4 separate regions of the Homo sapiens genome follow, and regions 2, 3 and 4 are each linked to region 1. The links come from fine-mapping of genetic effects on gene expression. A gene starts in region 1. Each other region holds a variant in brackets. All regions are shown on one strand. Distances are from middle to middle.

What was found.
Region 2: its variant is fine-mapped to the expression of TSPAN10 in iPS cells (HipSci, PIP 0.95).
Region 3: its variant is fine-mapped to the expression of TSPAN10 in cerebral cortex (GTEx, PIP 0.98).
Region 4: its variant is fine-mapped to the expression of TSPAN10 in caudate (GTEx, PIP 0.91).

What each region holds. Positions count from the first base shown.
Region 1 is chr17:81,634,682-81,640,719 of GRCh38, reverse strand. TSPAN10 (tetraspanin 10) reads right to left here and starts at 3,524. Exons shown (of 4, transcript NM_001290212.2): 1 at 3,314-3,524. It overlaps NPLOC4 (NPL4 homolog, ubiquitin recognition factor), which reads left to right and starts at 3,608. Exons shown (of 17, transcript NM_017921.4): 1 at 3,608-3,804. The coding sequence starts at 3,790. RefSeq lists a silencer at 3,669-3,878.
Region 2 is chr17:81,595,484-81,601,521 of GRCh38, reverse strand. NPLOC4 (NPL4 homolog, ubiquitin recognition factor) reads left to right here. Exons shown (of 17, transcript NM_017921.4): 9 at 1,095-1,181; 10 at 4,206-4,277; 11 at 5,280-5,406. Among named protein-coding and RNA genes, the nearest start is that of NPLOC4, 39 kb to the left of the region's middle. RefSeq lists enhancers at 1-96, 2,984-3,103. The variant TG/G (reference allele first, on the strand shown) is at 3,427.
Region 3 is chr17:81,685,479-81,690,478 of GRCh38, reverse strand. HGS (hepatocyte growth factor-regulated tyrosine kinase substrate) reads right to left here. Exons shown (of 22, transcript NM_004712.5): 2 at 4,790-4,874; 3 at 4,092-4,167; 4 at 3,384-3,476; 5 at 1,652-1,775; 6 at 245-297. Among named protein-coding and RNA genes, the nearest start is that of HGS, 4.0 kb to the right of the region's middle. The variant T/C (reference allele first, on the strand shown) is at 2,701.
Region 4 is chr17:81,713,858-81,719,895 of GRCh38, reverse strand. SLC25A10 (solute carrier family 25 member 10) reads right to left here. Exons shown (of 11, transcript NM_012140.5): 2 at 4,824-4,943; 3 at 4,304-4,418; 4 at 4,155-4,203; 5 at 3,846-3,887; 6 at 3,041-3,084; 7 at 2,824-2,894; 8 at 2,405-2,497; 9 at 2,035-2,112; 10 at 9-65. Among named protein-coding and RNA genes, the nearest start is that of SLC25A10, 4.6 kb to the right of the region's middle. The variant A/CAGGGGTGAGGCA (reference allele first, on the strand shown) is at 2,929.

The DNA.
Region 1 (6,038 bases):
TTCCAGCACTTAGGGAGGCCGAGGCAGGTGGATCATGAGGTCAGGAGATTGAGACCAGCCTGGCCAACATGGTGTGACCCTGTCTCTACTAAAAGTACAAAAAATTAGCTGGGCATCGTGGCGCATGCCTGTAATCCCAGCTACATGGGAGGCTGAGGCAGGGGAATTGCTGGGACCCAGGAGGCAGAGGTTGCAGTGAGCCGAGATGGTGCCGCTGCACTCCAGCCTGGTGACAGAGCAAGACTCCATCCCTAAATAAATAAATAAGTGCCATTAGCGTGGGCCCTAATCCAACATCCTTACAAGAAAATTGGGACACACGGTGGGACACATGGAGAGACACGAGGAATGTGTGCACAGAAGAAAAAACATGTGAGGTCTCGGGGAGAAGGTGCCATCTTCGAGCTAAGGAGAGAGGTATAAGAAGAAACCTGGCTGGGTACAGCGGCTTATGCCTGTAATCTAAGCACTTTGGGAGGCTGAGGTGGGTGGATTGATTGAACCTAGTAGTAGTTAGAGACCAGCCTGGGCAACATAGCAAGATCCCATCTCTACTAAAAATACAAAAAGTTAGCCAGGTGTGATTGTGAGCACTTGTGGTCCCAGCTACTGAGGAGGCTGAGGTGGGAGTATCACCTGAGCCTGGGAAGTCGAGGCTACAGTGAGCCACGATTGTGCCACTGCACTCCAGCCTCGGCGATGGGAGTGAGACCCCAGTCTTTTCTTTTTTTTTTTTTTTTGAGACGGAGTCTTGCTCTGTCGCCCAGGCTGGAGCGCAGTGGCGTGATCTCGGCTCACTGCAAGCTCTGCCTCCCGGGTTCACGCCATTCTCCTGCCTCAGCCTCCCGAGTAGCTGGGACTACAGGCACCCGCCACCACGCCCGGCTAATTTTTTTTTTATTTTTAATAGAGACAGGGTTTCACCATATTAGCCAGGATGGTCTCGATCTCCTGACTTCGTGATCCACCTGCCTCGGCCTCTCAAAGTGCTGGGATGACAGGCGTGAGCCACCGCGCTGGGATGACAGGCATGAGCCACCGTGCTGGGATGACAGGCGTGAGCCACCGCGCTGGGATGACAGGCGTGAGCCACCGCGCCCGGCCAAGACCCCAGCCTTAAAAGAAAAAAAAAAGAAGAAAACAAAGGAGAAACCACGTCTACTGACACCTTGATCTGGGATTCTAGCTTCCAGGACTGTTAGGAAGTAATTCCAGGCCGGGCATGGTGGCTCATGCCTATAATCCCAGCACTTTGGGAGGCTGAGGCGGGTGGATCACGAGGTCAGGAGATCGAGACCAGCCTTACCAACATGGTGAAACCCTGTCTCTACTAAAGATATAAAAATTAGCCGGGCGTGGTAGCGCACGCTTGTAATCTCAGCTACTCAGGAGGCTGAGGCAGGAGAATCGCTTGAACCCACGAGGCGGAGGTTGCAGTGAGCTGGGATCGCGCCATTGCACTCCAACCTGGGCGACAGAGGGAGATCCGACTCAAAAAAAAAAAAAAAAAAAAAGAAAAGTAATTCCAAACCACCACCCAGTCTGTGAGAGATTTTGTTATGTTATATTTTCTTATAACTGAGATAATTATTACAGTTAAAGAGATCGGACTTAACTGAACCCATCTTGCTTCTAACCTCCAAGCTGTCCTTGTTCATTCCTGGGTGTAGGCTGAAATAACTTCGGGAGGCGCTTAGTTTATAGTTTAGCTTTGAAACAAAGATGGTAACAGCCCTTTGCAAAACAAACTCCCTTCCTACCTGGGGACAAGACTGCCTTTTCAGGACTAACAAATTAGCCATAAGATTAGAAATTATGGTTTAGGAGTCATGTAGCTGGAGGCTACAAGATTCTAAACCTCCCAAATTGCTTCTCAGGATAACATCACTATTAAAAAACAGATCAGCGCTTGAGATATTTTGCAGACTCTGCACTCCATGGATCAGCTGGCACCACCCAGATTGATAAACTGGCTCATATCTTGTGGCCCCCACCCAGGAACCGACTCAGCACAAGAGGACAGTTTTGACTCCCTATCATTTCACCTCTGACCCAACCAATCAACACTCCCTACTTTCTGACCCCATACCCACCAAATTATCCTTAAAACCGCGGATCCCCAGCCGGGCACGGTGGCTCACGTCTATAGTCCCAGCACTTTGGGGAGGCCCAGGTGGGCGGATCACCTGAGGTCAGGAGTTCAAGACCAGCCTGACCAACATGGAGAAACTCCGTCTCTACGAAAAATACAAAATTAGCCAGGCATGGTAGTGTGCGCCTGTAGTCCCAGCTACCCGGGAGGCTGAGGCAGGAGAATCACTGGAACCCAGGAGGTGAAGGTTGCAGTGAGCCGAGATCGCGCCACTGCACTCCAGTGTGGGTGACAGAGTGAGATTCGGACTCAAAAACAAAAAAAAACAAAAAACAAAAAACTCTGATCCCTGAATTCTCAAGGACACTAATTTTTTTTGAGTAGTAATAAAACCTCAGTAACCTGTACAAGCTGGCTCTGTGTGAATTAAACTCTTTATTGCAATTCCCCTGTCTTGATAAAGTCTAGGCAGTGGGCAGGGACAATATGTTGGGTAGTTACAGTGGCACCCTGAGCAAACTAATACAATTACTAACATAATTTAATCAATTAATGTAATTTAACATAGTTTAAAAAAACTGTCACAGTAATTGTGATGTTGTGAAATATGTATACATTTAGTCTTCCGGTTTCCTGGTATCCAACTCCAAAAATCCTTAGAATCTGTGAAGTGACGTCTTTTTTTTTTTTTTTTGAGATGAAGTCTCACTCTGTCGCCCAGACTGGAGTGCAGTGGCACCAACTCAGTTCATTCTAACCTCCGCCTCTTCGCTTCAAGAGATTCTCCGGCCTCAGACTCCCGAGTAGCTGGGATTACAGGTGCCCGCCACCACGCCCAGTTAATTTTTGTATTTTTAGTAGAGACGGGGTTTCACCACGTTGGTCAGGCTGGTCTTGAACTCCTGACCTCAGGTGATCCACCTGCCTCGGCCTCCCAAAGTGCTGGGATTACAGGCGTGAGCCACCGCGTATGGCCTAATTTTGTATTTTGAGTAGAGACGGGGTTTCACCATTTTGGCCAGGCTGGTCTCGAACTTTTGACCTCAGGTGATCCGTCCACCTTGGCTTCCCAAAATGCTGGGATTACAGGTATGAGCCACCGCGCCCGGCCTGAAATGCAGTTTAAACTCGTTTGTTTTTCTTATGTTAAATTTAAAAAATACTTAAAAAAAAAAACATGAAGGTGTGATCCTGCCTTCCTGAAATTGTTTCTCTACTTACCTGTGCATGGAGAGAAGTTTGGAATGCTGTTTCCCCAATTATAATACGCTATAATACGCAGCAGTAGTTATTTTTGGGTGAGACTTCGGATGCTCGTCTTTGCTTCCTTTTTGGACTTTCCTGTGCCGCTTGGGTTTCCGAGGACGAGCAGAAGTAATCTCAGACGCAACTTTCCAAAATCCCCTCCTCCAGTTGCAGGGATGGCGGGGGCGGGTCAGCGGCGCCGCCCTGCGCATGCGTCGAGCCGTTGGTGGGGCCGGAACCTGGTTTCCCGGCCTCGCGCCCGAGGGGAGCGTATTGAGCGAGGCACCGGGACGTCGGCGGCTGGCGGAGCCGGGCGGGCGAAGCTGGAGCGGCGGTGGCGGCGGCGTAGGGAGGCCGGGGCCGGGGCTGAGGCCGCGGCCGGGTCTGCGAGGCCCTTGGGGCGGCAGGCGGCGGCGGCCCGGGGCTCGAGCCCGGAGGCAGGAGCAGCCGCCATGGCCGAGAGCATCGTGAGTGCGGCGGCCGGGCGGGAGCGGGGACGCCGGGATGAGGCAGCAGATTTGCCGGCCTCGGCCTGTGGGGGAGGCGGGCCTGCCGGCGCCGCGACTCGGCCCCTTTCTCTTCTCTCGCCAGGGCTTTCTCTGTAGTGGCTGGGCCCCTCTCGGGGACTTTCACCCCCCTCGGCTGCTTCCCGTCCGTGTCCCTCCCCAGGGGACTTACGACCCCGGTTCCCCGCCCTGGGCAGGGAAAGGCCGAGCCTTTCTAAGCAGGGAGAATGGACTGTGGCGAAGAGAAACCGCCCTCCTTCCCCACCCGTTTCCCGGCTCCAGGAGACTTCCTGGTCTAATTCCAGGGACTCCCAGCCAGTCCTGCCCCTCTCAGAGCCAGGGACACCTCTTATCCTAATCTCCCTCTGATTCTCTCCTCCTGCTCTCCCGCTTCCCAGCAAGTGCCTTGTCATGAGTCACTAAGGAGAGCAGCTCTGCAGACGGGGACGTTACAGAGCTCCCTCCCCACCAGAAGACCTGGGAAAATGAAAACACAGTAACTTGCCGGCTTTGCTCCTTACTTGGAAGGACAACTTGACAATTCCTCTTTAAAAGGAATGTTGTAAATGATGTTGATTTCACTTTTTACCTGAAATTGAAATTGTCGGCCCGGCGCAGTGGCTCACGCCTGTGATGTCAGCACTTTGGGAGGCCGAGGCGGGTGGATCACCTGGGGTCAGGAGTTCGAGACCATCCTGGCCAACATGGCAAAATCTTGTCTCTACTAAAAATACAAAAAATTAGCCGGGCGTCATGGCGCACTGTAATCCCAGATACTTGGGAGGCTGAGGCAGGAGAATTGCTTGAACGCGGGAGGTGGAGGTTACAGTGAGCTGAGATCCCTCCATGGCACTCCAGCCTGGGCTATAGAGCGAGACTGCGTCTCAAAAAAAAAAAAAAAATTGTCACACACTCCTCCTTAACGTAAAAAATATCAGTGACAAATCAGAAAACCAGTCCCTCGTTAAGTTGTGAGAAGTTTCTTCCCAAAAGTAAATGTGATGGGAAAAAAACTAACTGACCATTGGACAGGAGCATTTTGGTTAATATTAAGGAAGATTTGGGATTTCTGGGGGAAGCTTAGCAGTATTGGGTGAAGAGTAATGTTCATACTGTAGCATTGTGACAGTCTCTGCAGTTTTGCCAGGTGTTGTCTAGAATAGGTCTCCAGGCCCGGCGCGGTGACTCACACCTGTAATCCCAGCACTTTGGGAAGCCCAGGTGGGTGGATCACCTGAGGTCAGGAGTTCAAGACCAGCCTGGACAACATAGTGAGCCTAGGTGGCGTCACTGGACTCCACCCTGGGCGACAGAATGAGACTGTCTCACACACACAAACAAATGGGTCTCCAGGAGAACCTAGCACTTATTTGCAAGGCTGTTCTCTGGTGGTTCCATCATCTCTCCAGTCAGGGGCCCTCTTGGTGCCTCCATGTTTCCCAACCTGGAGATGAGTGGAATGAATATATGGCCCAGGAGAAACTTAGGAAACGTCGACTCCTTTTTTTTTTTTTTTTTTAACCTTATTTTATTTTTTTGAGATGGAGTCTCACTCTGTCGCCCAGGCTGGAGTTCAGTGGTGCGATCTCTGCTTACTGCAACCTCCGCCTCTCGGGTTCAAGAAATTCTCCTGCCTCAGCCGAGTAGCTGGGGTTGCAGGTGCTCGCCAACACGCATGGCTGATGTCTTTTTTATTTTTAGTGGTGATGGGGTTTCACCGTGTTGGCCAGGTTGATCTCGAACTTCTGACCTCGTGATCCGCCCGCCTTGGCATACCAAAATGCTGGGATTACAGGCATAAGCCACCGCGCCTGGCCTTTAAATCTTTTTAATTAAAAACATTTTTTTATAGAGATGAGGTCTCTACTATGTTGTACAGGCTGGTCTCTGAGCTCGAGGGATCCTCCTACCTTGGGGTCCCAAAATTGCTAGGATTACAGTCCTGAGCTACCATGCCCGGCCAAGAAACCTTTGACTCCTTTGAAAAATAAAATGTGGCCATGCAGTGGCTCACGCCTGTAATCCCAGCACTTTGGGAGGCCGAGGTGGGCGGATCACGAGGTCAGGAGTTCAAGACTGGCCTGACCAACATGGTGAAACCCTGTCTCTACTAAAAATAAAAAATTAGCCGGGTGTGGTGGCATGCACCTGTTATCCCAGCTACTCTGGAGGTTGAGGGAGGGGAATCGCTCAAA
Region 2 (6,038 bases), 39 kb after region 1:
ACTTTGTAGGGGCAAGGCAGATCACTTGAGGCCAGGAGTTCAAGACTAGCCTGGCTGACATGGCAAAACCCCGTTTCTACTAAAAATACACACACAAAAATTTGCTTATGCAGCTTATGCTGCCACATGTCATTAAACAACTCCTTTTCCTTAGCTTTTTCTCTGAGTTTGTGATTTAACCTACGTTCTGGAGGTATTAATGACCTCCATATGGGTAATACCCAGCAAACGTAAACTTCTTTGTGGTTTGCCAGATTTTCACTAATTTACAAGGATATGCCCAGTTACTGTAACTCAATTTGAGATTACCTTTACCTTTCCTATTCTTATGGCTGGGGTTTCTGCATAGAATGATACCTTTGAATGACCCGCAAGCTACATTTAAGTGAACATTAATGATTTCGGTAAGCTTGGTCCACTCTGGGAAGTGATGTGCTGTGGTTGGTTTCAGTTGCATGGGAGCCAGTCGAAGCTACAACTCATCGACTGCCCTGTGCCAGATGAAAGGAGGTGGTTGATTTTTGAACACCTTTTCCCTTCCTTAGGGTTGGTGAGCTCATCGCTCTCTGTGGAGTTCATAGTGTCCCTGTAACTGAGTATCTTAGCTGTGAAGCCAAGCATTGTCTCTGCAGGAGTGGCACACAGATTTTCCAAGGCTGTTTTGTGGGAATGGATGTTACCTTACAGTTTGAGTCTTGCCTAATTTAGCCAAACCTGTTTGGAGTGAAGCTACTTATCCAAGGAAGTTTGAAAGTAACTTAATTCCCTGATGAAGGAACTTTTAAAACAGGCAGAGTGTGTAGACCTTGCCTTGCCTTAGTCCTGAGTGCTCCTGATGCAGAGCTGTGCAGCACACATCAGCTGGGCCCTGCATGCCACATGTTTTGCAGCCCTGGTAAAAGGTGCAGCACAACCCGAGAAGGAGAGAAGCCGGGAGGCGTGTCGCATGTGTTTTATCTGTGGCTATAGTTCTCCTTTCTGACAAGGAGGCCCCCAGCACTCCTTGTGACCTAGAGCTGGAAGTGGAAGGGCTTGGGGTGCTGCTTCCTGAGCCCTCTGCTCTAAGTCCATCTTCTCCCTTTGATTCCCTGCAGATTGGTACACAGAACAGCTTGGAGCTTCTTGAGGATCCAAAAGCTGAAGTGGTCGATGAAATTGCTGCCAAACTTGGCCTGCGGAAGGTACTGAGGCATCCGGCAGCCAAGCAGGGGGCGTGGCCAGGCTCTGTTGGGCATCCAGGCCAGGGGGAGTTGGGAGAGTGGCCGGGCTGTGTCGGGTACTGGCTCTCTCCGGCTGCACAAGGTCAGGTGCAGGCACTATATGTTTTGAAACTTCACATATGTTTGTTGGGCACCAATAACCTTTATGTTCCTCTGACTTAAACTAAAATGAGAACATTTTCTTGAGCATAAAAAAAAAAAAATCCCAGTGCAGATCTGGCTGTTATATTTCAGCCTTCCAGCCACACTTCATGAGGACTGCTTCAAGTGGGAAACAGACCCCAGCCGCACCCCTGCTGGCTCCTCTGTGCATGTGTGTCCCTTCTGCCTGAGCTCTCCCTTCATGTAGCTTGGAAGCCGAGGACAGTCAAGGCTGACATTCCATTGACAGTGTTCATGTTCTGTGCCATGCACTTGGAGCTTCTGCTGCTCCGTCATCAATCATCATTTAATTTCCTGTTTATAATTTAGCTCTCTGAGCCTACAATTCTTCCTAGTTTCATGGAACAGTTAGAAGATGAGAAAAGGATTTCCTTTTTTATTCTATTGATCTGGTTTATCTGACATTGATACAGTTCCCAGGAACAATTTTAATAAATTAATGTAGAGCCATGAATTTGAACATATCTTACGAGTTTAATGTTAATAAGTATGTTTTATCCTTTATTTCCTAATCAACTCAGACCATGAAAAATAATCTCTAGATTATTTAATCTTCTCTACAGATGAAGCGGGTGAGACTGCAAATGTGACTTAAAACCTAGTAGTGTCAGTGAGCAGTCCACACAGTTTTACTGTCTTTAGGAAAGAAACATCCTGTTTCTAACAAGGAGTCAGCATCTTGATTTAGGGGCATATTTGGGTTCAAATTCTGGAAGTTCTCTTGTTTAAAAGAGATTGGTCCAATTTTTTGACCTAATTTGTTATAATCTTACAGTTCATAATCTTGAAATTACTTAAATAATTTTCTGCAAGACACAAGTTTCTCTTTTTATTTTATTTTATTTTTTTTTTTTGAGGAGTCTTGCTCTTTCACCCAGGCTGGAGTGCAGTGGCACGATCTTGGCTCACTGCAACCTCTGCCTCCCGGGTTCAAGTGATTCTCCTGCCTCAGCCTCCCAAGTAGCTGGGATTACAGGCACCCGCCACAACGCCCAGTTAATTTTTGTATTTTTAATAGAGACGATGTTTCACCATGTTGGCCAGGCTGGTCTTGAACTCTCGACCTCAGGTGATCCACCCGCCTTGGTCTCCCAAAGTTCTGGGATTATGGGCGTGAGCCACCGTGCCTGGCCTAAAATATGAGTTTCTAAGCCCTAATTTTTCTCAGTTTGATTTTGATTTTGCTTTATTTACTGCATAATTAACCCTTTAAGTTTCATTTTCTCTGTTGCCACCACCTTGGGTTTTTCATTCATTGGGGCATCTTTAAAGACAGTGAAAGTCTCCCAGTGGGCTAGTCATGTCTGCTGGGGGTGGATGGGAAGAGTTGTGTGTCAGGTAGTGCTGGAGAGGGTCATGGGCCGCAGATCCTTCCCGAGGACAGAAGTGACAATTGCCGGGACTCAACTGCTGCTCCTGTGGCCTCGTGACGGGCTTCTGGTGCAGGAATTCACAGGCAGAGGCGGGCCTAAGGATCACACAGCACACAGGCACTGCTACACTGAACGTGCAGGGGTTGCTGGGTCACAGGTTTCAGATCCTCATACCCTCAGATGCTTCCTTCCGGCCTTGAGGTGGAGCTCCCAGGAGCAGCTGTGTGAAGTCTGCATTATATTACCCCTTTTGTATTATGTGCCTTTCTCTAGGAATCCTTTTTCTTAGCTTGTCAGGAAAGACCTACTCTCTGAAATGTTTATTTGCTTGCTTGTTGTCTGTCTTCCTCTTGGGAGTTTAAGTGCCTTTTTCACTCACCTTCTGTTGGTCTCACTCACTGCTGTGTCTCTTGCACCCAGCATGGTGCTGGGCAGAGCTGGTGCTGAGGAAACTCATCTCTAACCCAGCAGCACCAGAGGGAGGGTGGCCAGTTTCTACTGAACAGAGATGGAGATCCCTGGGTGTGGCCTGGCATCTTACTTGAGGAACCTGTTGATGTAGATTCACCTGGCTCACAAAAAGGAGTTTCTGACTGAGAACATTCTTTTTAAGCTCTCTGGGCAGAAGCCAGAAAACATTCATCATCTATCTTTTTTTTTTTTTTTTTTTT[TG/G]AGACAGAGTCTTGCTCTGTGGGCCAGGCTGGAGTGCAGTGACGCAATCTCGGCTCACTGCAAGCTTCACCTCCCGGGTTCACACCATTCTCCTGCCTCAGCCTCCTGAGTAGCTGGGACTACAGGCACCCGCCACCACGCCCGGCTAATTTTTTTCTATTTTTAGTAGAGACGGGATTTCACCATGTTAGCCAGGATGGTCTTGATCTCCTGACCTCGTGATCCACCGTCTTGGCCTCCCGAAGTGTTGGAATTACAGGCGTGAGCCACCACACCCGGCCACGCCCAGCTAATTTTTTTTTTTTTTTTTTGAGATGGAGTTTCATTCTTGTTGCCCAGGCTGGAGTGCAATGGCGCGATCCTGGCACACTGCAACCTCTGCCTCCCGGGTTCAAGTGATTCTCCTGCCTCAGCCTCCTGAGTAGCTGGGATTACAGGCATGCGCCACCACCCCAACTAATTTTGTATTTTTAGTAGAGACAGGGTTTCTCCATGTTGGTCAGGCTGGTCTCGAACTCCCGACCTCGGGTGATCCACCCGCCTCGGCCTCCCAAAGTGCTGGGATTACAGGCGTGAGCCACCGCACCCGGCCTAATTTCTGTATTTTTAGTAGAGATGGGGTTTCACTGTATTGGCCAGGATGGTCTCGATCTCTTAACCTCGTGATTCTCCTGCCTCGGCCTCTCAAAGTGCTGTGATTATAGGCGTGAGTCACTGCGCCCAGCCATTCATCGTCTATCTTGAGGAGATGTTTAAAAGCTACTTTCCTTTTTTTAAGGTTGGCTGGATATTTACAGACCTCGTCTCAGAAGATACCCGAAAGGGTACCGTCCGCTACAGTCGAAATAAGGTGAGGTGGAGACAGGACTGTGCGTGTGGCCCTATGGCTTGGTTACAGATGGTGTTGGCCTGCATTATCAGGGTCTCTTTGCACCGCTGGTTCTAGCTTTCAGGCCCCATTATTTATTTATTTGTATTTTTTGAGACGGAGTCTTGCTCTTTTGCCCAGGCTGGAGTGCAGTGGCGCAATCTCTGCTCACCGCTAGCAATGCCTCCCGGGTTCACGCCATTCTCCTGCCTCAGCCTCAGGAGAAGCTGGGACTACAGGCGCCTGCCACCATGCCCAGCTAATTTTTTTGTATTTTTAATAGAGATGGGGTTTCACTGTGTTAGCCAGGATGGTCTTGATCTCGACCTTGTGATCTGCCTGCCTTGGCCTCCCAGAGTGCTGGGATTACAGGTGTGAGCCACCATGCCCAGCCCTCAGGCCCCATTATTTTTCAAGAAGTTCTTCTTGATCAATGAAGGCCGGATCTCTTGGTCTCATAGAGCTAAACCCATCTTACCTTTATAAAGCAGTGATTTTCAGGGCTCAGCCCATGGCGGGGTGGTTTGCATAGTGCTTCTGGCCTTTCTAGTCGTGAGTGGTTTTAGATGAGGAATTGGTAATGGTTAGGAATTGTAGATACTTGTTTCAAAGTGGTTTTGAGTTTTATAGTTTGGTTCTTATTTTTTATTTTTATTTTTTTGAGACAGAGTCTTGCTGTGTTGCACAGGTTGGAGTGCAATGGCACAATCTCGGCTCACTACAGCTTCCTCCTCCTGGGTTCAGGTGTGCACCACCATACCCAGATAATTTTTTTATTTTTAGTAGAGACCAGGTTTTGGTGTGTTGGCCAGGCTGGTCTCGAACTCTTGTCCTCAAGTGGACCTCCCGCCTCCACCTCTCAAAGTGCTGGAATTAGAGGTGTGAGTCACTGCTCCTGGCTTAGTTCTTATTTTTTAAAGAAGAAATAGAAGTATATTTTGGCATGATGCTGTAAAATTTGATAGGCTGCTTCTCTTGTCTTAGGACACCTATTTCCTAAGTTCAGAAGAGTGCATCACTGCAGGAGACTTCCAGAACAAGCATCCCAACATGTGCCGGCTCTCTCCAGACGGACATTTTGGATCCAAGTTTGTTACTGCAGTGGCTACAGGTATAACAGGGACAGTATGTACTGTAAATATTACCACCTCGTTAATATATTTTGTTCCTCTTTTTGGTAGCTTTTTATCCTTAACTTAGTTATACTGGACTTTCTTACTGGGCTTGTGGGATATAAATTCCTCCTTTCTTTTTATGGTAAAAATTCTGAACAACTTAACAGCATAAAACTATATAAACACAAACCCCAAAACTCATAACAGAATCAGGACCTCCACAGAGCTCTCCTCTAGGCCAGTGCTCTCATTAAAAGTCCACTTTTTTGGCCGGGCGTGGTGGCTCACGCCTGTAATCCCAGCACTTTGGGAGGCCCAGGTGAGTGGATCGCTTGAGGTCAGGAGTTCGAGATCAGCCTGGCCAACATAGCGAAACCCCATCTCTTTATAAATATAAAAATTAGCTGGGCATGGTGGTGGGCGCCTGTAATCCCAGCTACTCAAGGAGCTGAGGCAGGAGAATCACTTGAACCCATCAGGCGGAGGTTGCAGTGAGCTGAGTTTGTGCCAGTGCACTCCAGCCTGGGTGACAGGGTGAGCCTCTGTCTCAAAAAAAGAAAAGAAAAGAAAAAAAAAATATATATATATATGTATATGTATATATGGACAAGGATGTTCCCCTGGGCGA
Region 3 (5,000 bases), 50 kb before region 1:
TCATCAAAGGTGCTTGTTTTCCTTTCCCGAGCCCCCTAGCCACTCTAAAGGCCCTCAAGCCACGTCTCCACCTCGCCCTGCAGAGACAGCTGCTACGCCTCCGCCCAGGACACACAGGCATCCTCAGGTCCCAGACAGACGAGAGCTCAGCCACCAACCCTCAAACAAGCCGGGCTCCCAGCACTCCCCTTCACGCTTCCTGAGCAGCCCGACTCCAGAACCCCTGGCGGCCGCCCACACTCACTCTCTCGGCAGCAAACATGGCATCGCTCTCTTTGAATTCTGGAAAGACGTGCCCTGGAGAGATGAAGCCATAGTCACTGCCTGCTCCCACCTGGCCTGCAAGACTTCCGGGAGCCCCTTCCTCACTCTCGGCAGCTGCAACGCAGCAGTGACCGTGCACCCAAGTGAAGGTGTCTGGGGGCACCGAGACAGCCTCCTGCCCCCAAGATTGGGTGTCCCCATGGGGCCTCTGTCCTCACTGTGGCGGGAGACAAGAGCCAGGCCCTGCTGCCCTCTTCCTGAGACACTGCTCCCACTCCATCAGGGCATGAGGCCCCTGCGTGGCCCCGCCTGCTGAGTGGCTCCCTCACCCTCTGCTCTCTGGCCAGGGCTCCCACTGATCCTGAGGACAAGACCTTGAGCTATTCTTGACACACGACCCCAGAAAAAATCCAGGAGAGCTCCCACCCCAGGAAGGAGACAGGAGCACAGACCACCAGCATCCACCACCCCAAAGTTGAGGGTCCAAGGCAGCTCGTGCAGCGCCCCCTGCGTTCTTCCCGTGTTCTCCACACTGGTCCTGCCCACCCTGCAGCCACAGGGCAAGCGTCCAACTCCTGCAGCGGGGACGCACCACCCCTGGAGCCTGCCCCATTCCCCACGCTCTCAGCCTCGTCTTCAGCAGACTCAGGGCCACAGAGAACCCGCACAGATGTGAGCAGCCATGCCCACCTCTCTCTCACTGAGTGGGCCCTGAGCACCAGCCAAGACTCCCAAATGCATCCTGAAGCCCCCACCTCTCTCTACACAATCCCCTAGTTCTCCACGGCCACAATGGCCGAGAGGGACCCTTAAGAAACACACCTTGGCAGCCACGACCTAGACGAAAACCCACCAGAGGCCTCCTGCTGCGCTGACAGCAACCCTGAACTCCAGCCCAACAGCCTGGAGGCCCTCGGCGCACAGGCCCGGCTGCACTCTCCTCTGGCACGCTGGCCACCTTTCTGCCCTGGGGCCTCAACCCTGAGTGTCTGCCCACGGGTGCTGCCTGCCTGCTCACGCCGGCTCTGGCTTCTGTTCCAGTCTCGACACTTGGGACAGCTCCTTCAGAGGCCTTCCCTGACTGCACAGCCCAACCCGGCCCCCAGGAGTCCTGCCACTCTGAAACAGGCTGTCTGCTGCCTTTTCACCTGTGTGTTGTCTGCCATCACTGCCTGCCCCTGCCCGTGGGCCGTGGGTCCAGAAAGGCAGGAGCCGGTCTGAACCCGCCCTCACATGCACGGTCTTCCCTGGCTCCAGGCCACCGCCCTCCTCCCTCCCAACACAGGGAACAACCCATCTTCCCAGGCCCCTCGCCACTGTGCCCGTTGAGCCTGACTGCCCAGCAGTTCCAAGCCTCAACCTGGTCCCAACCTCAGTCCTGACTCACCCTCCACCTTCATGATCTGGTAGGTGTCCTGGACCACCTTGTACTTGGGCTCGTTCCGGAAGGCATGCGCCCAGGCCTGGATCAGGTACAGGATCTTGTTACGGACGTTTACCTCCACTTGTCTCTGCAGGCAGGGAGAAGGGGGTGAGGGTCGCAGGACACTCCAGGCGCCAGAGGCCTCGGTGTGAGGAAGCAGCTGGCAGACCTCAGCCTCTGAGCAGATGGGGCTGACACAGAGGCCAGGGAGGGCCCCCCGAGTGGGGCGTGGGGGCCATGCACCAACCTGTTCCCAGACCCTGAGTTCAAACCTCACGCCTGCCTCTACTTGCTGGAGCCAAACAACGCCGCGTCTCTGTGCCCCTGACCATCTGTCTCTCCCTTTCCCCACGGGACCTGCCCACCCCAGGATCCCCGGTTCCCGTCAGCCTCCAACAGGCAGGACCCGGCAGGCCTGACGGTGGCAGCGTGGTGTTGGGGCTGAGAACACAGGGGTACTGCGGGGCTCTGGCCACGCCCCTCCTTCCAGTCACAGCCGGGGAGACGCGGGGGGCAGCCGCTCCAGAAATGCCTCCAAATTCAGAGCGGGCTCCAGACCCCCTGCAGCCATCCTCTCCCCCGGTTAGAGCGCAGCCTGGCCTCGCGTCTACGGCCCTCTCGGGGACGCCGTCCCGGTGTGACGTGCAGGACGGCGTGCGATCAGAGGCTGCTGCAAGCAGGCTCCGGGGCACTTGCACCTCAGCCTAAGCTCCTTTCCAGAACCCCTCTGCATCCTCAGCGGCGCCTTCCCTTCACAGCCCTGCCTCACCCCAGAGGAGCGAACCGGCTCAGGATCTGCAGCCTGACTGAAGGAGCTCAGGAGCACCAGGGTCGGGCAGGGCCAGACTCCGGCACCTTCCGCCTCTCAGCCAGGACAGGACGGGACAGGAAGCCAGCCAAAGTGGCCAGTGAGGGCCTTTGAGAGGCCTGGCTGTCCACCGGGATCCCCGGGCAGGTTCTCAGCTGTGTGAGTCCAGGGAGTCTCCTATGAGACCCAGGTCTGGCCCACAGGT[T/C]GGGACAGAAGGGGAGCAGCCTGACTACATGGGACACTCTTTCTCCTTGACACCTGCAACAGCATCCCCACTGCATCACAGTCCACATCACAGTCCCTGCAGGTGTCCCCAGCACAATCCCTGCAGATGTCCCCGGCACAATCTCCTGGGGATCTGGAGGGCTTTTCCTCCTCTGCCCAGGAAAGCATGAAGCCCTCGCTCTCCAAAACAGCTCTTATCCCCGCCAGACACATCCGATCTTACAAGCCCCCGCTCAGAGCCCTCCCAGGCCCCTGCCTGTGGGATGTGGCCAGCCTGCCCTCCGGACCACAGCCACTCTCACACACGATAGCCACCACCTGCCCTGCCCACCCAGTGGCATCTACTCACCTTCCCTAAGACAGCAGGTGCCCAAGCCCTGCCTCCCGGAAGCTTCCCCCAGGCCCCAGGGTCGCTGTCACCTTGGTCCTCCAGACACAGCACCCCAGGCCGGCTCCTGCTAAACCCTGACCTCCCTGGATTGGGGCTCACGGCCCTGTCTCTCCGACTCATGAGTGCGAGCTTGCGCAGTGCAGGGACCACCGATCTGCACCTGCACATTTTCCGCCACACCTGGTGCTGTTCTGTCATCAGTGCCCAGTAAACACCCGGAGAAGCAAAGGTGCCAGCCTGGGTGGCCACCCGCATGCCCCCGTCTCACCCACCTTCAGCAGGTCCTTCAGCTCCTCCATGGTCTGCTTGTTGGCCACCTCATCATGAACTGTCTGGCCACAGTTCTTTACCACAGATTCCATGACCTGCAGATGCCCAGGAAGGGAAGGGTTGGGCCAGTGGTCAGGGCAGGGCCCCTCCTCCTCCCGGACAGACCCACCTCCCTGTGGGACAGCAGAGCCCTTCGACAGGCCCGTCAGTGGCCGGTGGGGAACCCGGTGGGACAGCAGAGCCCTTCGACAGGCCCGTCAGTGGCCGGAGGGGAACCCGGTGGGACAGCAGAGCCCTTCGACAGGCCCGTCAGTGGCCGGTGGGGAACCCGGTGGGACAGCAGCCCTTCAACAGGCCCGTCAGGCCAGTGGGGAACCCACATCTGAGACTCAGCAGCCTGCACAGCACCGCTCCGTGACGCCAAGTCTCACTGCCAAGCACAGCAATGACATCCGCCTTCTGGTGTTTACTCACGCAGGACCGGCTGAAGAAGTGGTGCCCACTCCCTCCCCTATCTCCTGTCTCTCCCTCAGCGTGACCCTCTCCTAGGTGGCACTGTTCACACAGGCACTCAAGGCTGAGTGGAAACTCTCCTGCTTGATGTATGCCCAGGGAGGTGGGCAAGGCCACAGGACAAACTCTTCTCATGCTGTCGTGACTAGTAGGGGGTAGGGACCCTGGGGGCCACTGAGGCACGGGGGTCTGCTTACCTCCAGGGCATACAAGGCGACGTGTGGGTTCTTGTCGTTGACTTTCTTCTTGATGGAATTCACAGCATATTTTGCTCTGAAAAGGAAACATTGATAAAAGCAGAGAAAAACGGGAAAAAAATAGTCTCAGCAACTAAGATGAGAAAAGCTCATCTGCTGCCAGGTGCAGTGGCTCACGCCTGTAATCCCAGTGCTTTGGGAGGCCAAGGCAGGAGGATTGCTTGAGCCCAGGAGTCTGAGACCAGCCTGTGCATTACGGCAAAAACCCATCTCTACCAAAATACAAAAAATCAGCCGGGCGTGATGGTGAATGCCTGTAGTCCCAGCTACTCAGGAGGTTGAGGTGGGACGATCGTTTGAGCTTGGGAGGCAGGGGCTGCAGTGAGCTGAGATCACGCCACTGCACTTCAGCCTGGGTGACAAAGCAAGGCCCCGTCTTAAAAAAAAAAGTCTGTCTGCCATCTTAGTCTTTGAGAACCCCGAAGCAAATACAAACATAACCAGGTATCTGCAAGCTGTACAGAGAAAACCCCTTAATCCTCCAAGATGTCAAAAAATCCTAGCATGTAGCCCATGCAGTTCTCCACATAAGAGCCTAACACGGTCAGCTACGTCGTGGAGACCCAACGGGCACCAAGCGAGCCCAGCTTAGTGCACGGCTGCTCCTCCGCATCAGGGCACAGGCCCCGCTAACTCACTGTGTGTCCCCTTGGCGGATCAGGTCGCAGATCTGCAAAATGGACTCCCAATCTGTCTCCAACAGGAGCTGGCTGGTCGCCTTGTCTGAGAGAGAAAATGCCATGAAAGGGAGGGGTTATCCTGCTGGACGCCCCGTGCAGCACCCCAGCTTGGCAGCAGCTGGGGGGGACTCTCTCCTTCCCCTTTAGACATTTGGACCAAATGAAAAAG
Region 4 (6,038 bases), 79 kb before region 1:
CACTGCACCTTGTAAAAGGCCAGAGGCCCGAGCTTCGCTGTCTCCACGGCGCAGTGGAAAACGCCCTGCAGAAAACGCAGTGAAACAATCAAAAAGGCTGCTTCTCACCCAAAAGGCAACGAAAATCCCCTCCCAGGCACCAGCCAGGCACGGTGGCCTGGGCATTCTCAATGTGGGGTGTGGGTGTGGGTGTGGGTGTGAGCGGCGGCTGCTGGCTGGTAACAGGTGACCACAGGTCTGCAGGCACCAGCCAGGTCAACGGCCACCCTGCCTGCTCATGCGGTACAACCAGGGCCCGAGGGTGCAGCCCGGGGTCCAGTGGGCAGAGGGGGCTGTGAACAGAACCATGAGAATCAGGGATGCAGCACGGCAGCGTCAGGGAGAAGAAAAGGGACAGAGCTATGGGCTCTGCAAACGTGGAAGCCCCATGGAGTTGGCGGGGGCCCAAGACAGGAGACCCAGAGCACCTATGAGGCACAGACTGCCATGAACGGCACCACCTCTGTTAATCTGTGAAAGAAATGTTTTTGGCCGGGCACAGTGACTCACACCTGTAATCCCAGCACTTTGGGAGGCTGAGGCGGCAGATCACTTCAGGCCAGGAGTTCAAGACCAGCCTGGCGAACATGGCGAAACCTTGTCTCTACTAAAAATACAAAAATTAGCCAGGAGTGGTGGCACGTGCCTGTAATCCCAGCACTTTGGGAGGCCGAGGCAAGCGGATCACCTGAGGTCAGGAGTTCAAGACCAGCCTGGCCGACATGGTGAAACCCTGTCTCTACTAAAAATATGAAAAATTAGCCGGGCATGGTGGCGGGCGCCTGTAATCCCAGCTACTTGGGAGGCTGAGGCAGGAGAATCGCTTGATCCCAGGAGGTGGAGGTTGCAATGAGGGGAAAAAAAAAAGAAAGAAAAGAAATGTGTTTTTTTTTGTTTTTTGTTTTTTTAAGACAGAGTCTCGCTCTGTCATCCAGGCTGGAGTGCAGTGGTGCAATCTCGGCTCACTGCAACCTCCGCCTCCTGAATTCAAGCAATTCTCCTGCCTCAGCCTCCTGAGTAGCTGGGATTACAGGCGTGCGCCACCAGGCCCAGCTAATTTTTTTGCATTTTTAGTAGAGACGGGGTTTCACCATGTTGGTCAGGCTGGTCTCCAACTCCTGACTTGTGATCTGCCCGCCTTGGCCTCCCAAAGTGTTGGGATTACAGGCGTGAGCCACCGTGCCTGGCCGAAAAGAAATGTTTTAAGACAGTCTCACTCTGTCACCCAGGCTGGAATGCAGTGGTGCAATCTCGGCTCACTGTGGCCTGGACATCCTGGGCTCAAGGGATTATCCCACCTCAGCCTCCTGTGTAGCTGGAACTACAGGCATGCACCACCAAGCCTGACCAATTTTGTTTTGTTTTGTTTTTTTGAGACAGTTTCACTCTTGTGGCCCAGGCTGGGGTGCAATGGTGTGATCTCGGCTCACTGCAACCTCCGCCTCCCAGGTTCAAGCGATTCTCCTGCCTCAGCCTCCCGAGTAGCTGGGATTACAGGCGCACGCCACCACACCCAGCCAATTTTTTGTATTTTTAGTAGAGAGGGGGTTTCACCATGTTGGCCAGGCTGGTCTTGAACTCCTGACCTCAGGTGATCTGCTTGCCTCGACCTCCCAAAGTGCTGGGATGATAGGCATGAGCCACCGCACCTGGCCCCTAATTTTTGTAATTTTGGTAGAGACAGGGTTTCAGTATGTTGCCCAGGCTGGTCTTGAACTCCTAGACTCAAGCAGTCTGCCTGCCTCAGGCTCCCAAAGTGCTGGGGTTACAGGCATGAGCCACTGCGCCGGGCCAAGAAGTCTTCTCTAAAAACAAAAACAAGGCAAAGGCATTCAAAGGCACAACCCTCTCCCAAGGCAAGTGCTGTGCAGAGACAGGCAACTAGAAGGGAGGGACACCCTTCCCCGGGTCCCCAGTGCGAGTGTCCACCCCCCGGAGAGGTGAGGGGACTCGCTGGGCTGTGCAGCCCAACTGCACAGGCAGGGCCCCACTCACCTGATACTCCCCCTTGGAGTTCATCAGGCGAGTCTTCAGCACATCCAGGGGCTGGCACAGGAACGTGGCACATCCACCCTGAGGAGGGGGCTCGTCACCAGCGGCCTGTCAGGTACGCCAGGCACCATCGCCGAATCCCACCCACGTGCCAGAACCTCCACCTGACTCCTAGGGCGGGCCAGGAACATGCTGGCGGGGGCACCAGGCTGACCCATGAGCTCCCAAAGCCCTGGCACCCCACTTATGAGCCCCAGGGGGCACTGCCAGATGCCCAAGGCCCCCGCCTCCCCCAGCCCTCGCCCCATCCTGGGTGCCCTCAGCGCCCAAGGCCGGCCCAGGGACGCCCACCCTAGCCATGCCGGCCACTTACTGCAATAAAGCTGGCGACAAAGTGAGTGAAGATGTTGTCAGAGAGGTACCCGGTGCTAAGGACCAGCTGCTTGGCCTGGTCGTAGCAGGACAGCTGCAGGGGCACAAGGGCGGTCAGGGCTGTAGGGGGGACCCCAGCTTGGGGAAAGCACACAGGGCCCCAGGCGACACCACCTGGCAATGGCCAAGCACCTGCTCCGTCTGTCCGTCCGTGAGGCCCAGACAGGGGAGGCACCTGCCCGAGGTCCTTCACAGGCTGCAGCCCTGACCCACCCGTGCCCCCCACCCTGCCCCACAAGGTCACAGCTGGTGGCTCCCCAGGAGGGTTTTGGCGCCCAGTGCCTTGTTCTATGGCCCCTCTGAAGATGGAGGTCAGTGGTCACAGGCACTGCCCACACCCACCCCACGCAGGAGGCCTACCTGGCCCACAGTGACTAAGGCCCCTCGGCTGGATGCCATGGTTGCACCCGAGAACAGTCTCCTGAGACCCTCTGCACAAGGAAGGGGTGAGGCAAGGGGTGAGGC[A/CAGGGGTGAGGCA]AGGGGTGAGGCCAGGCACCTGGCCCAAATCCCTCAGCGCCCAGTCTTCTACAGCGCTGCCCACCCTGCCTGCCCCCCAGAACCCTGCCTGTGCACAGCACCTGCCCCTCACCTTCACGAGCTACGCGGTACAGGCCATCCAGCGCATGGGCGTAGCTGCCGGGGACACAGAATGACCACATGAGACTCCCCCTGACCACCGGCTCCCACAGAGGGTCCTCCCAGGCCCCGAGGCAGGCCGGGGGTTCTCGAGGAAGCAGAGGCCTCATGGGCCTGAAGATCTCTCCCTGGGAACATGAAGCTGGTCCTGACGTCCCACAGCCACCTCGCCCGCCCCGCCCGGCCCTCAGGGAGGAGGTTCCATCGTTTCCAACAGAGTCCCTGGCTGGGCACCGCTCCTAGCATGCAGGCCTCCTGCCCGCCAGCCCCCGGGGTCCTGGGGGAACACAGTCTGTGTGCACAGCTAGAAGCCAGAACTCCCCAGGGGTCCTTGGAAGGGGCGGGGGAAGTGGCTCACACTGCAGTTGGAGCGGACCCCGGGCCCTGGAAAGACCCCAGGCCGTGGCAGGAGGGCACAGCTGCCCTGAGCTGGGCAGGGAGGCAGCGCCTCCTTCGGGCGTTTCTGTTGCATGCGCTCTCTCCATGCCTGGGGCGTTCGCCTCCGCACTCACCACCCTGGGGTGCAAACAGGCCCAGCCCCCAATCCAACAAGGCTCTCCCCACAGGAAGAACCCAAAGGTCCTGGGGGCGCAGAGTGACACCCCCGAGTCCAGAACAGCCGTCAGGACCCTCCATGGACCGTGCAGGCACCTCGGCCTGCTGGAGCCTCAGCTGGGTCACGGCAGAGCAGCCAGGGGTCCGCTCCCGCCCGAGCCTCCTGCACCTCAACCACCCCGAGAAGGCCGCCCATGACTCACTTGCGCCGCTGACCCTGGGGCAGCTTCACGTCGTTCTGCATCCTGAAACAGAAGCAGGTGGCGGGAGGGGCGGGCGGGCCGAGGGGCATGGGCAGCCCTGGCAGCACAGGGGAGCTCACGCTGGTCAGCGGGGCCCACAGGACAGGGCACGCCGGGGCTCAGGGACACCCACCCTCCTATGCCCAGGACACCAGGGTCTCAGTGGCTTATTCCAGGCTGACCCCACCCTGCAAGCAGCCCTGGCAGGCCCTGGCATGTCTGGGGACAAGAAAGCCCCTGGCCTTGCAGGTGGGGTGGGGGAACACCAACCTGACGTTGACCAAGTCTGCGGGCGTCCCCACGAAGCCTCCAGCTAAACCTGCGGTGACACAAACCCCAGAGATGAGCCGTGCTGACACACGGCGTCCTCGGCCGACCTGACCACCCCGCGCCCCTCCCCCTCCCGCCCGGCAGCTCACCGCTGACGGAGCCCAGCAACACCTTCTCGTGGAAGGGGAGAGGCCCCTGGCTGCCCTTGGCCACACGGTCCCGCACAGTCTCGTAGATGGCGAACCGAGTCAGGGAGTAGGTCATCTGGGGGAGAAGGGCCTGGCTTGGAGGGACGGGCACGCCCCACACCCCTCAGCCTCGCCACCCGGCCCAGCCAGGGATCCCCCTCAGCCCGAGGGGCCACAGGGACCCTGAGGGGCCTTCCCAAGGCCACTGTGCCAGCATGCGGCTGAGCCAGTTCACAAATCTAGAGCTGCACCCTGCTTTCTCACTCCCTGGGCCTCAGCTTCCCCACCAGTAAGTGGCGGTCTCAGGCCCAGCCCTGCAAACTGGGTGGGTGCCCATGGGAGGCGCACCCTGGGGTCACCAGCTCTCGGCCTGGTGGGTCCTTCCTTGCACAAAGTCTTGAAAAGGGGACGGAAGTAGCTTGGATGCCACTGCAGGACTCAGCCCCAGTCTGGGAGCCCAAGGCTGGCACACACCACGCACCTGTCTGCACAGCGAGGCGCTCAGGCCGCTGTAGAGTGCCAGGATGCCGTCGGTACGCACCACCCGCAGCGCCATGCCCGTCATGCGCAGCTTCACCTCCTGCTGCGTCTGCAGATGCACCTGCGGGAGTGAGTGCTCTCAGACCCCACAGCGACCCCGAGGGATCGGTGCCAGGTTCATCCAGAGAGGGGGAAACTGAGGCAGGAGGCAGTGATAAGGCCTCCCACGGCCCTGCCCGGGGACTCCACACCCGTGCCTGGAACCAGCTCACACCACTGCTTTCCAACAGCAACCACACCAGTGGACATGGAGCTGAGAGTGTCCGCGAGCCCCGCGAGCGCCCCGCGTACCACCTGAGTATTGGCTGCACTGGCCGCAGGGGCTCGCCATTCTCCTTCTGCAGATGAGGAAACTGAGGCATGGAGAGGTAACGCACCCGCTGGTGCCATCAGGATTTGGGCCCAGCGAGGAGACCCCAGAGCCCTACTTTTTATCCACCACACCACGTCTCAAGAGGGACAAACGTTTATGGCCGCTCAGAAACGGCGAGGGAGCCTGCAGGACCATGGGAGACTGAGGAGGTAGCCATAGAAGGCCTTGAAAGGCAGCAGGAGCTCAGCAGCAGACAAGGGGACGGTGTGGCTGGCGGCAGGGCATAGCGGCCTCCTCTGCAAAGCACCTAGGAGCTGTGGGCAGGCACTCGGGGGCTGTCAGCCCGACAACCTCCCATTCTGTTGGCCTCCACCACTCACAGGACCTCTGCCTCCTCGCCTGGCCAGCTGAGAGCTCCCGGCAGTAGGGGGATTGGCCAGGGCCAGACAGGAAGGCCAGCACCTGGCCCAGGATCCCAGCTCCTGGGTCCCACCCCCAGCACTGACCCCAAAGAAGTCCTTCCGCCGCTCAGTGTGACCTGCACGTGCGCGGCCCCGTAACGCACGCCCAGGGGTCGGCAAAGATGGGTGGGGACAGAGAGGGGCCTCCCATTGTGCGAGCCCAGCAGAACAGAGGGACTGGGCCACACAGGTAGCAGCCCCCGTCCCGGCCAGATGCGACGGTAGGGACTGTAGGGACATGGGACAAAGTGCTCAAGAAGCTTTAAAAGATCTTTCCGACGGCCAGGCAGAGAGGCCTGGTGAGCAGTCCTCAGGAGCACACCCTGACCACAGCGCCATATGCTGCCAGCAGCTGGCTCCTCCCGCCCTCCCAGGCCAGAGG